Linked DNA regions of Homo sapiens. The protein of the gene in region 2 interacts with the protein of the main gene of each other region in a biochemical or structural test. Each region holds a gene or a part of one and is shown on either strand. Other genes may lie near its edges.

Region 1 (7,025 bases), on a different chromosome or scaffold from region 2:
TTCCCGGATGCTCCCTCTTATCAAGTTGTTGGAAGGATAAATTAATAGGGTGGACAGATGAATATTATCCTTTATTGATTATCAACTATATTTAAAACACTGCTAGGCATGTTTTGAATTTACCTAATACACACACCTGCACATATACACACAACAGAGAGACAAATATTTATCACTGAAACTCAGACAGAATTAAGCAACACAATTACTAAATGATTTGGCTTCACATCCCATGCTCTTCACTATACCACATCATTTGTTCAGAAAACATTTCATGAACTCTTACCAAGTGCTAGGTATTGTATTAGGTATCAAAAATACAGTGGGAAATAAACAAAAGCACACGCTCACAATAAAGCATGACAGTGCTGTAAGAGTGAAAGCTTGGGGTGAGATGGGAGCCTATTAGAGGGGCACTTATTCCTAACCTGGGGTTGATAGAGGAAGCAACCTCTTAACTGAGCCTGAGTGAATGAATATGATTTAGCAAAAGAAGCATAAATCCCACAGGAGGATTTAGGCATTGCAAGTGGCCAAAGGTAAAAAAGCTCTGTAAGAGCTGAGAAGCTGGAAGAAGGATGAAGAGGGAATAGAAAGGTAAGTAGGAACCAGAGCATATACTGCTTCTTAACTGGTGTTGAGCTTTAGCCTATAAGCAATTGGTAGTCACTGGGAGGGCATAAGCAGAAGAGAAATGTGCTGAAATCTGTATGGTGGGGAGGGAATGAAGATTGGAGGCAGAGGATCAGTTTAGAAGCCTCACAAGTGAGAAACTATGAGGACTTGCACTAAAGAAATGCAAGCAGAGATCATGAGAAGAGAATAGGGATATTTAGGGGGCAGAACTGATGAGATGTTACTTCCATGAAGGGTGAAGGAAGAAACGGAAATTAAGAATGACTCAATTTTTCAACCTTATTCCAAAGACCACATTTAAAACACCTATACAGCTTCTCTAGGTACTTGCATGATAACATTTCACTTTTTTTCTGTAAAGTAGGGAGCAACGTCATCTACTGAAACTGAGATGGGAGGCAGGAAGAAGAGATCTAGTGAAGATCTAAACTAGCCACTCTGTAGAATGAGGAATTGCTGAACAGAGAAACACAGGCCTCCAGGAAAGTTGAGGGCCCAAATGGGGGAGAAGGTCTTGATCTGGCAGCCCTCATCTGTGCAGATGGAAGATTATCTCCAGCAGCACTCAATAGCCAGGGTAAAGATGCAGAGAAGATGAACACTGAGACTGGACCATATCAAAGTTTTCCAGGAGAGGCAGAAAAGACAAGACATTAGGGCAGTGGAGTTTAGAATATAAGAGAGTGGCAGAAGCAATGAAATATAGCCTCTAAGAGGAGTTTAGAACATAAGAGAGTGGCAGAAGCAATGAAATAATGAAATATAGCCTCTAAGAGGAGTTTAGAACATACGAGAGTGGCAGAAGCAACGAAATAATGAAATATAGCCTCTAAGCTGGATATAGAAGTGAAGGGAGGGTGTGCTAATAAAAAGAAAGCAGACTAGGAACTAGGGTCAGGGAACTAGAGGGCTCTCATGATAGCATTTCCCAAAATGTGTTTCTCAGATGCTTATTACACAGGATGTTAATCACTGATACGTTCCTCATTAAAAGCTTTTCATGGTCAAATAAGTGAAGGAAAGTTTGGGTAATGTAATTTTTAAACTGTTTCCTTCCTGTACTATTTGTATTTAATAAGTTAATAATATATACTGTAGTTCTCTAATAATTTATCTCTAGGATAAATATGCATTTCCCAAATAATTCTGATTACTGTATATTATTTATCTATATTTATCAGAGAATTTCACTGAATGGGTATCTTAAGGAACACATTTTCAGAGGGTCTGCTCTGTGAAATGAGAAGCAGGGATGGTAGAACACTTGAAAAGAAAGTATCTTACCAAGGCAGGAGGTTTACCTGAAAGTTCTCTTAGCTTCCAGAGCTATGTATCTTTAATTCTACTATAACACACACACACACACACACACACACACACACACACACACACACACAGCTTGACTCTGACTCTACTGTAATTAGTATTCATTCATGAAACCAATATTCCAAGAGCATGTACTATTATGTGGCAGAGGAGATTTATACAGCATTCTTACCAGGACAAACTTCGTGACTTATCTGGAGAAACAACAGATACACACATGAAAAATAAAAACCTGGCTGGAAAATATGGCTCTTCCTCAGATACCCATAAGACATAGTTTCCCTCCAGGGCAACTAGTGCTACCAATCTAGCCACAGCTCTGTAAGATCAGAAAGTTCCTCCATAAAAACAGAGCTAACTGAGTAGATCTGAGCTGAACAAACTAAAAAGCCCCAGTCTTTCTTTGCTGAAGCTACTACTCTCCCAGAGTCACCCATGATGAAATAATCTCTCCTACCCCATCAGTTTGATGACATAGATTCTTGACCTGGTCCTAATCTACTCCAGGATAATAAATCCTAAATTGATTTTCTTGAATGACAACCAACCTGCTTTTACCCAGTGTCAAGCATTCAGAATTCCAACTGGCACAGACTAGTATGGATAAAACATAATCCATAAGGAAGAAGTAGAGATCCACATGTAAATAATGGCTAGTGCCAGACTGTGAAGGATCTTGGTGACACAGCTGAAGCCTGGACATTCCATGGGGAATGAGGAGGCCTTAGGGATATCTGAATAGGAAGACTGGGAGCGGGAGGGTAAAAGTAATGCCATCATTGCTAAAAACAGGTTTAGAAAGTTATTCTTGGGACATGCCCATAGGGTCCACGTCCATTTTTTAAAAGGCAGATCAAATTTTAAAATACTTTTTGTCATTTTTCTCCACTTCCCTTCAAAGGGTCTGTGGGTAATTTTCCTTTCTAGAGGTAAGGAAAATAGGCCCATAATTTCTAGCTTCATGGTTAAAGGTATAAAAGAGTAAGTGTAAACATAATTTAAACTGACAAGGATGTTAAATCAGGCAACTCACTTGAAACTCCAATGGAAAAAGAGATGAAATTCTAAATCTTCAGTACACATTGTAGAGATTTTAGAAAACCAAAAATAATATACTGCTATCATCTTATTAGGGAACAAAAATGCTAAAGACACATTAGCAAATGTGGCTTTGACTGATGTGACATAAGCTGAGACCTCATACCAACTAATTTAAGAAGTTTTAAAGATTTAGATCACGAGAAAAACAAAACTACAATAATTATATGGTTTCAGAAAAAGTAAGTCTTCCCTCAATAACTTCTTCACATACTTTACTACTGCTATACTACAATATGACAATCCCTAGGGGTTATACTAACATCACTTGATTAGAATTTTGGAAACACTGAAGTCTCACATTACAGAATGATGTCTAACTTGTAAAAACAAAAAACACAGAAAGTTGGCTCATGGGATTTAAAATTTGCTGAGGTCCATAAAACAACTGCAGCTATAAAAACCACTTATCTGTTCAACTTCAAAATTGGTTTTCACTAAAATCTCTGTGACAAAAAGTCATACCTATACAATCAGTTATAACAAAATTATAACATGTATTGATTTTTGTGGATGTCAAATCTAAAAGTCACTATACAAAATGTCAGAAATCTGTGGTATAAAGTATGATGTCGGAAACATCATCATTAGTCTCTCTTCCTTGAAATATAATACACTGCAATCTAAATGAATTAGATTCTATAAAGACTCATTTTTCTTAACTATTATATATATGCTGATGTTCAACTATATGACTGCATGAAAAGTTGTTCATATAGTTTCATAAGGAGCTCAGTAACTCCCTAAAGACACAAAAAAGCACTCAATGATCTAATTGATCTGTTAAGAATCATAAAATTTGAGTTAAAAATTATATCAGCTTATGGAAAATTGATATTACATGTTGATGAAAAATGTGTTAACTGTTTTACCACAGAGTCTTTGTGATCCACTTGTACCCCAACACTAGCTGGTTCTGGAGGCCATAAGACCATCCTCTGCAGTGGAGTGAGGCACGTTATGGATGCAGAAAACTTACTCTAGTCAGATGCCCAGCTAGGAATTTCAGGAAATCCAAGATGTAGGCTGCTTTCCAGGAAAAAGGCACAGAAGACCCACCAATGGCAGGAGATAGAAAATTCATACTCCACCCCCAGGATTATGGCAATATAGCAATCTATTACATTTTGTGCTTCATGATCCTCTCTATCCAAAGTACATATGCAACCATAGTGGGCTACACAGAACTAGGGAATGTGAAGAAAGCAGCAGTACTGAGCCACGTGACTTGAAGTTATGGGTCAGACCTCATGGCGGAGTAGCAAAAAGAAAAGGGTGGGCAAAAAGGAAATGGAAGTATCTGAGAGAAAATTCTGGTATCCATTTTGCAGTACCAGCAAATCACTTGAATATTTACAATTTTCTAGGTTCTACAATGCTAGAAGTCATGTAATTCTGCTGTTCTGCCATGGAGAGGCAATACTCTTCAGTGGAAAGCAGCCTAGTGCTTGCTTAGACTTTGACACTAACCACACAGGACTAGGGTAGGAGCATGACAGGAAGAAAAAGGTCAGTTGGTGCTAAGAGAAAATTCATTTTTGCCTATAACTGTGAAATCACAATGACCTACGATGTTAACTGCAGTATCTTAAAAAACTGTTTTTAAAAAAGAGAAGTGCTAGTCTGTGAAAGCATTCCTATTGTCATCACTTTGTAAGCAACAGAGGTCAGAGAGAATGTTTGATCATCATTTTAGCCACTGCAGCACCCCCAGCACTGTGCCTCACATATGATAAGCAGCAGTAAATATTCATGCAACTGAATCTTCTGTATGAGCATCCCTGTCTCTTAATCCTTCTTTCTAGTGCTTCTTATTTTCCCACCTTATTTCTTCCCATAGCTCGCACTGCTCTTTGTGGTTTAACTGATAATTTGGACAACATAAAATAATAGTCTGTTGAATTTACTGGAAGATAATTTTAGGTTCACTTTTTTAATTGGGAAAGTAAATGTTAGGAACACTATCTTTTTCTCTCTAAAATACTTTGCAAATTAAGCCGTGGGTTAGCAACCTTCAACAGAAAAAAGTTCCATAACTCTAAGTTGAAGATGTGTTGTTTTCTGCTATATTAAAATACAATTTTAAAAAGGTGACTTGTGCCATACTCTTTTTTACTGTTACATAAATCTAAGAAACAAAATTTTCCACAGTTGGCTATAAAAAGTAACACAGAACTAGCCTGGTTCCTATAAAAGTATCCTTTCGAATTAGAAAACTAATATTTAATGTAAAAAAGCCACATACTTTTCATAGTTCCATCTTCTTCTTCCTCATCCTCACTGTTTATCACCATGGTCCCCAAGTCGGATTCCAACATCGTGCTATTATGTTCAATCATGGTCTGGGCCCCTTCACTCATCGTGCTTGTGGCCCGCATGGTGCCCACACTCTCCACACTAGTCTTCACCATGGTGTGGGAATCCAGCTCATCTTCATCCTGCAAGCAAAATACTGCAATGAGGGAAGACTTTTCTATGACAGCTGGATTTCTTAATTCTTAACAAGAGAATGAATATATTATAGTTTTAATACTTATTAAAAATACTATTAGTACTGATTTTAATATAAATACATACATACAAATGTTATTTTAAGAGTGAAAATTATTCAAAATAACCTAAAGCTTTAGGTAATTACAGATCAAGCAACAGAAACTGATGAAGTAGAAGGCTGCTAGTTGCTTTTAAAATAAGGATTAAGATAGGTAAACTATCAGCAAATGCATAACAAAGAATATGGTGACAAAACAACTAAATATATATGAGAGCACCTTTAAGACAGAACACATTGACACTTTGTATTATAATGGGCATAATGATGTCTATAACCTTGTAAAACAGCCATTAGCTTTTTCTTTTAAATTATGGCAAAATATACAAATACATATATATAAAATTCACCATTTTAGCAATTTTTAAGTGTATAACTCTGTAGCACTAAGTATATTTACAATGTTGTGCAACCACCACCATTATATGTTTACAGAACTCTTCATTCCCCCTTTCCCCAGCCCTGGCAACCTCTATTGTACTTACAAGAGGTATCTAGAATAGGCAAATTCATGAGTACTACTATTCATACCATAGTACTAATTCATAATTACTATTATACTTATGAATTTGCCTATTCTAGATACCTCATGTAAGTGGAATCATACAATATATTTTGCTGAGCCTAATGCATTCAAGATTCATGCATATTGTGGTAGAAAAATTTCATTCCTTTTTAAGGCTGAATGATATTCCATTGTATGAATACACCACATTTTGTTTCCCTATTTATCTGTTGATGGCCATTTGGATTGTTGACACCTTTGGCTACTGTGAATAGTGCTAATGTGAACACTGACCTACAAGTATCTGTTTGAATCCCTATTTTCAGTTTGGTTGGGTATCTACCTAGAAGTACAATTGCTGGATCACATGGTAACTTCATATTTAATTTTTTAAGTGCCCAAACTGTTTTCCACAGTGGCTATACCATTTTACACTCCCACCAGCAATGCACAGGATTCCAACTTCTCCACATCCTTGGCAACACTTGTTATTTTCCATTTTTAAAAAATAATAGCCATCCTAATGAACATGAAGTGTTATCACATTGTAGTTTGATCTGCATCTCCCTAATGACTACTGATGTTGAGCAATCTTTTCGCACGCTTATTAGCCATTTGTATATCTTCTTTGGAGAAATATCCATTTACCCATTTTAAAATGGGTTGTTTGGTTTTTCTGTTGTTATTACAAATTCTGGATATTAATTCCTTACCAGAGATATAATTTGCAAATATTTTCTCCCATTCTGTGTGCTTTTTACTTCATTTATAGCGTCTTTTGATGTAAGTTTTTAATTTTGATGAAGTCTGATTTATCAATTTTTTGCTTTTGTTGACAAATCTCAGCTTTTAAATGTTTCACAGAAGAATCAAGTCAGTAATAAAAGTACAAATTAAAAGTGCTCTTTA
Region 2 (7,405 bases):
AAACAACAAAAACAAAAACAAAACAAAACAAAAAGTTGTTTTGTGTTCTTGTAGAAAAAATCCTGAACCAGGAAGACCAGAGGGACATGATCACATTTTAAATTTAAAAATAAAAACTGAAATAGGGTAACGTAAGCCAGGAATTAAAAGGAAAAGGCAGAAAGAGGCTAGCATTGTGCCCCAAAGGAACTCGGACACCTAGCAGTAAGAGATAAAAACCACAAAGGAAGACAGATAAAGAAAGTGATAAAGCAGAGGGCAATACCTGGAGGGAAGGGAGGGGTTTGGAGAGGAAGAGAAGGGGGAGGGGTAATCATTAAAATATTGGTTTCCCAGTACCAAGGTTAAGTTTCCAGGAATCCCAGCTCTACTCCTCACTATGGTAGACCCCTGGGCTAGATGCTTTGCCTCTTTGGGTCTCAGTTTTCCTCATTTGTAAAATGTGACTAATACTCAGTAGGGTTATGAATTTTTAAAATAGACAATCTGTTCCTAACAGTTTTTTTGATATGTTGTATCTTTGAAGATAATTTCAAGATCCCACCAACCCTTCCTCTCTGAAGGCACAAGCACACCTCTTCTTTTCAACGCTGGCTCTGAAGAAATATTGGTGGGGCTAAGTTCTGGTTATGCGAGCAGTCAGGGTACGCCATTGCTTTAATAACACCAATGGTCAAGCTGGAATGGGCTTCAGGAATCATTACTCTAACCCTCTTTTCTGTAAACAAGACACTCTAGCACAGCACGATTAAGAGTTCTGCCCAAGGATGCAATGAATTCCCAGAACTAGAACCAAATCAAGGAACCTGCGTCATAACTAGAAAGAAGGTCACAGACTGGTCACCTTGGGAGCAGCTCACCACTGGTTAAAACATAACCCTAGGAAAGCTGAAATCTGAGTGACAGGCTTAATGGCTTAAAAATTATCACAGGAGTAAAACATTTAACACCAAACTATGAGCAGGAAAAGAACAGAATGCTCTAAAATATTCAGAGTGAATGCACATAAATATTTATCTATTTCCAATACTTAACAGTGTAAAGTCCACAGCACGTCATTAATTCTGGTTAATACAACTATATTAGAAACTGAGAAACAATATGGCATGGAGGTTAAGATACCCGAGAGCTCCACAGTCCTTCAGACAGGGTTGGAATTCCAGCTCAACCACAGATCAGCAATGTGAAACCTTTAGGAAGTTACTGCATTTCTTTGTGCTTTGAATACTCCATCTGTAGAACGGGTAATCGTGTAAGGAAGTAAGTCAATGATTACAGACTGAGTACTTATAATACCGCTAGGGTAAACTATCAATAAAACTTGATTGTATTTTTTAAATATCATTGCTCAAAAGATTGGTATCACCAGAACTGGGCAAAATTTTCAGGTATCCAAGGTCCAGAAACCAGGAAAGTAATTTGTAAAGGATCCTTTCCCGAGTAAGGGATTAGCTCACCCCTCTATAAGCTGAAAACCTTTTTGTAATTCCTGGGGAATGAAGAGCCCTAATGACTTTTTTTTCTTTTTAAAGGAAAAGGGTTACAAGAGGTTTCTACTGCTGGGCTAAGGCCCTGGTGGCTTCTGGTAGCTATAAAACCACGAACGTTAGGTAAGGATTAGAGAAGAAACCCAGAGTGGCTGTGAGTCAAGAAAAGACATCAGATAACAGCAATTATTTTACCATTATGTGACACGTAATACTAATGTTCCTACCTGAAGATAAAGAGCACAATTTTAAAATCTCCGCTCCTCCATTTCCAAAATCCAACAGCTGCTGGTCCCCCTACCACTTAAGCCATATTCTGCCCTCCAATTCGGCTGCGCAGCCTGCATTAGAGAAACACCAGGCAAGTGGGCGGGGGAGGGGGTAATGGGGAAAACGCCCGGATGCTGAAAGATACCTAATACTTTTCTGTTCCTACTCACTGCCTGCGGTAGTTTTAACTACTTAAGCCGGTGTCCAAAACGGAGAAAAAACGTCTCAGTCCTGCCTTATCGCGACCAGGTACCAGGTGATCAGAAATCAACACGAGGAGGCTGGCTGTCCCCACACAAGCCCCGGAGCCTAGAACGATGAGGCAAGAGGGCTGTTGGGCAGAGAACGTGACCTTGTTTTCCAGGCCAGGACTGTCTTGTGCTCCCCTAACCCCCTGTAATGCAAGAAAATTACTGAATAGCTTCTGAACCTTTTCGTCCCAAGACCAATGATATGAGAGCCAAAGTCAACTTCATTAAAGGAGAACCAGCCAAGGCAGAAATCGACTGGGTTTGCGCAAACCTCACCGCACAGCACAATGTCCCTGCGTTCTTAAAGGCAGCCAATCCATGGCCCCGATCTAACCAGTCTCGCCCACAGGGGCCCTATTTTGTGCACCGCAACCCACACACGGTCTCAGCTGCTGAGACCGTGTGTGGGTTGCTGAGTCACTGAAGACGGCGGCTCGGCCCCCAAAACGCCGTCAGCCCTGAAGTGGGGTTCGGGGCCCAGGCATACGGGGTTTTAAAAGCTCTACAGTCTGGACGTCCATTGGCTCTGGCACTGAAGGGCGTTCAGGATTAAGTAATTCTCGGAACCTCCCTTCTCCAGAGCCGCCTGGGCGCCCCAGGGAAGCCATCTCGACTACCCGCCCCCGCCCCCGCGGGCCCTTCCCCTCCCATCCCCTCCGCTCCTCTACACTCACGGGGACCCTGTCCGGATATTTCTTCCGGATCTTTTCTCCTTCCTTTTTCCGATACTCAAAGGGATGGTCCTCCTTGTACTGGAACTTCATGATGCACCGCAGGGCTTCCGAGATCCCCGCGCGGGGCCTGCCTCCTTCGCCGCTGACCCTGTCCCGCTCCCTCAGCCGACGTCAAGGTGTGCTCAGAATAGCTGCAGAAACGTCCGCTCCGGGGGCAACAGCGCTGGGCCGAGTGTGCAGGGGGGGTTCGGGGCGGGGATCTCGGGTGAGCCTGCCTGGAGGTAGAGGAGAGCCAGATGGAGAAATACCGGCGGCTTTTCGCTAGAGCTGGGAGCACAAAAACAGCTGGGTGGCGCGTCGGGCTGTGACGTCACCCCGCGAGCCCCGCCCCGCCCCCCATGCGCCAGGCGCCCAGGGCAGGGGGTGGCCGAGCGCTCTGTCTCACTGCGTTTCCTTTCTGGCTAACCTTTTTCACAATCGATGTCACTGCAAACATCAAAACATTCGAGTTATGTTTTATTTTGTGACTGTGAAATTAAAGATGGTTTTAAGACAAAAAAAAGATTTAAACATGTTTTATTCCCCCTCCACTGTTTTTCTTGGTTGGGCCCCAAAACAAATACAAAAGGCGAAAATCCAGCCTTTTCCTGCTGGTTGGGATCCAGCCTCAGGAGAAAAGAGGGCCAGGCCTCCTGGGATCCCTTTGGCCAATGCAGAGCTGTCCCGTGCTTGCACCGTGCCCTCTGCGCGTTCCGCTGCCCCTCCCGCGGCCCTCCTCCCGCGCTGGCGTCACAGTGTTTGGGCGGTGCCGCAGTTCGCTCCTGAACAGCAACATAAACAGAGCGTGACTCAGGAATCTGAAGAGAGGAGTCAGATGAAGGACACGGAGTGTAATCAAAGTCTAAAGGAGACATGATGTCAGTAAGGACTACCGAGGGCTTCACGTACAATCAAATATAGAAATGATTCACTTTCTAGCCGGGCGCGGTGGCTCACGCCTGTAATCCCAGGAGGCCGAGGCGGGCGGATCACCTGAGGTCAGGAGTTCGAGACCAGCCTGACCAACATGGAGAAACCCTGTCTCTACTAAAAATACAAAATTAGCTGGGCGTGGTGGCGCATGGCTGTAATCCCAGCTACTCTGGAGGCTGAGGCAGGAGAACCGCTCTAACCCGGGAGGCGGAGGTTGCGGCGAGCGGAGATCACGGCGTCGCACTCCAGCCTGGGCAACAAGAGCGAAACACCGTCTTACAGAAAAAGAAAGGAAGGGAGGGAGGGAGGGATTCACTTTCTGCCATAAACTCAGAAAGGGGGCTCGTCTTCTGGAAAAGAGAGTATCAAGCAATTTAGGTGATGACCTCAGTTGTTCCCCCACATCTTATTTAGTTCCAGTGGTTAGGTATCCCTCACGTGACTAGAAAGCGCTGCCTGGAATGCTAGTAGAAGATTGGGCATTAGGGCAGGTGAGGCGAAGCCTCGTTCTGGATTTCCCCACCTAGAGTCAAAGAAGAAAGACCTTCCAACCAGTACTGTAGGGCAGCGACAGGGAGGACTGTGGAGTTTGCAAAGAAAAAGAACAGTGAAAAGGGGCTGCGTTGCCCATACAAGTCGGGTGAGTTCTGATAAATATTAGATAACAGCAGCCCCGTGGCCTATCTTCTTCAGTCGGGGTCTCAGTGTCTCTAATTTTAAAAACACCCACAGGGGGCCAGGCGCGGTGGCTCACGTCTGTTCTCCCAGCACTTTGGGAGGCCCAGGCCGAGGATCGCTTGAGCTCAGGAGTTCAAGACCAGCCTGGGTAACATGGCAAAACCCTGTCTCTACAGAAAAAACAAAAATTAACAAGGCATGGTGGCGCGCTCCTACAGTCTCAGCTACTGTGGAGGCTAAGGCAGGAGAATCGCTTGAATCCGGGAGGCAGTGGCTGCAGTGAGCTGAGATCGCCCACTGTACTCCAGCCTGGGAGAGAGAGCAAGACTCTGTCTCAAAAAGAATAAATAAATAAAAATAGGCCGGGCGCGTTGGCTCATGCTTGTAATCCCAGCACTTTGGGAGGCCAAGGTGGGTGGATCACGAGGTCAAGAGATAGAGACCATCCTGGCCAACATGAGACGAGTGAAACCCCGTCTCTACTAATAATACAGAAAAAATTAGCTGAGCCTGGTGGCGCTCGCCTGTAGTCCCCAGCTACTCGAGAGCCTGAGGCAGGAGAATCACTTGAACCCGGAAGGGAGAACCCGGGAGGGTTTAACTATATTTGCATCAAAACTAAAATGAGGCCGGGCGCAGTGGCTCACGACTGTAATCCCAGCACTTTGGGAGGCGGAGGTGGGTGGATCACGAGGTCAGGAGATCGAGACCATCCTGGCTAGCACGTGAAACCCCGCCTCTACTAAAAATACAAAAAAATTAGCCGGGCGTGGTAGCGGGAGCTTGCAGTGAGCCAAGATCGTGTCACTGCATTCCAGCCTGGGCGACAGAGCTAGACTCTGTCTAAAAAAAAAAAAAAAAACCTAACATGAGCGACTGAAAATTAAACTGTTTTCAATTTGAAAGTAAGACTTAAAATTATAAACATATAATGTGATAAAATAACTCATGGATTTTATTTATTTTATTTATTTATTTGATATGGAGTTTCTCTCTTGTCGCCCAGGCTGGAGTGCAATGGCTCCATCTAGGCTCTCTGCAACCTCTGCCTCCTGGATTCAAGCAATTTTCTCCGGCCTCGTCCTCCTGAGTAGCTGGGATTACAAGGCGCCCGCCACCGCGCCCAGCTAATTTTTTTGTATTTTTAGTAGAGACGAGGTTTTGCCATGCTGCCAGGCTGGTCTCGAACTCCTGACCTCAGGTGATTCGCCCGTCTCGGCCTCCCAAAGTGCTAGGGTTACAGGTACTAGCCACCGCGCCCTGCCCTCATGAATTTTTATACATAAAGATTGAAAGATGCCATGAAGAAAAATACATGAAGAAGTGGGACTATGTGATTCGTTTTCTGGTGCCAGTAATGAAACTTAGTTTCTTTAATTTTGTGGGTGAGTTTTGTATTTATTTTTATTTATTTATTTATTTTTGAGACAGAATCTCACTCTTTCGCCAGGCTGGAGTGTAGGGGCGCAATCTCGGCTGACTAAAACCTCCTCCTCCCGGATTCAAGGGATTCTCCTGCCTCAGCCTCCCGAATAGCTGGGACTATGGGCGCCTGCCACCGCTCCCGGCTAATTTTTGTATTTTTAGTAGAGACGGGGTTTCACCATGTTGGCCAGGATGGTCTCGAACTCCTGACCTCAAGTGATCCACCTTCCTCGGCCTCCCAAAGTGCTGGGATTACAGATGTAATCCGGCCTATGAAAGTAAATTTTAAATTAACACAATCGAGTAAAACATTTCAAAATGTCTTATTTAACCAAAATCAAAATACTACATTAAAAAGCTCACATTTTCTCAAATACATTTTTGATGTTTCTTGTACTTTTTAAAATGATTTCAAGGGTTAGAAGTTTTTTCAATCTTTTATGAATATTTTCAAACATGTAGAGAATTTTGACAAATAGTATGATGAACACCACTATAACCTTCACCTAGATTTTTTCCGTTTGAAAGTAAATTAGAGGACGGGCGCGGTGGCTCACGCCTGTAATCCCAGCATTTTGGGAGCCTGAGGCGGGTGGATCACGAGGTCAAGAGATCGAGACCATCCTAGCTAACACTGTGAAACCCCGTCTCTACTAAAAATACAAAAAATTAGCCGGGTGTGGTGGCGCGCACCTATAGTCCCAGCTACTTAGGAGGCTGAGGCAGGAGAATCGCTTGAACCCGGGAGGCGGAGGTTGCATTGAGTAGAGGTCATGCCACTGCACTCCAGCCTGGGTGACAGAGCGAGACTCCGTCTCAAAAAAAAAAGTAAATTAGAAACATGACACCATCCCAATATACAAATTATATCCCCCCTGAGAATAAGAACATGTTCCTCCATAACCACAATAGTTATTACACCTTAAAAACTACTAATATTTTCCAACATTATCTAATATAGAGCTTATATTTATATTTTCTCAATTGCCCCAAACATACTTTTTTTTCTCCCCCACTCAAGCATTTGAATCTGAAAACAGGTGGAATTTACCATAAAGATAGGTCTGATTTCTTCGATTTAGGGTCTCTCTCTCTCTCTCTTTGTGTGTGTGTGTGTGTGTGTGTGTGTGTGTGTGTGTGTGTGTGTGTAGATGGCGTTTCACTGTTGTTGCCCTTCAGCTAATTGCAACCTCCACCTCCCAGGTTCAAGCGATTCTCCTGCCTCAGCCTCCCAAGTAGCTAGGATTACAGACATGTGCCACCACACCAGCTAATTTTGTATTTTTAGTAGACACGAGGTTTCGCCATGTTGGTCAGGCTGGTCTCGAACCCCTGACCTCAGGTGATCCGCCTGCCTCGGCCTCCCAAAGTGCTGGGATTCCAGGTGTGCGCCACTGCACCTGGCCCAGGGTCTCTTATATTATCACATTTAAATTGATAGATGAAACCAGAATTTTAGTGCATTGGTCTCCAATGACAAATACAATAGCTAGAGGTTTAGTTATTCAGCCATTTTCTAAATTTGCTTGCTAAGCTTGGAATTTAAACAAGGGATTTTATTACTTAATTTGAATTTTTAAATAAGCTGCCATCCACAGATCAAGTGTCAAATACCACCACGATGTGCCTGGCTGACTCCAAGACTAGG

What was found.
Region 1: the proteins of GABARAPL1 (region 2) and STK3 form a complex in vitro, tested with the Homo sapiens proteins (2 studies listed by BioGRID and IntAct).

Annotation. Positions count from the first base shown.
Region 1 is NC_000008.11:98,542,664-98,549,688, forward strand, and holds part of STK3 (serine/threonine-protein kinase 3), read right to left. Parts: intron 5,499-7,025; coding exon 5,306-5,498; intron 1-5,305. UniProt on the Homo sapiens protein: Stress-activated, pro-apoptotic kinase which, following caspase-cleavage, enters the nucleus and induces chromatin condensation followed by internucleosomal DNA fragmentation.
Region 2 is NC_000012.12:10,208,497-10,215,901, reverse strand, and holds the start of GABARAPL1 (gamma-aminobutyric acid receptor-associated protein-like 1), read right to left. Parts: upstream 3,026-7,405; 5' UTR 2,773-3,025; coding exon 2,683-2,772; intron 2,254-2,682; exon of another isoform or gene 1,940-2,253; intron 1,849-1,939; exon of another isoform or gene 1,533-1,848; intron 1,261-1,532; exon of another isoform or gene 835-1,260; intron 1-834. UniProt on the Homo sapiens protein: Ubiquitin-like modifier that increases cell-surface expression of kappa-type opioid receptor through facilitating anterograde intracellular trafficking of the receptor. Involved in formation of autophagosomal vacuoles.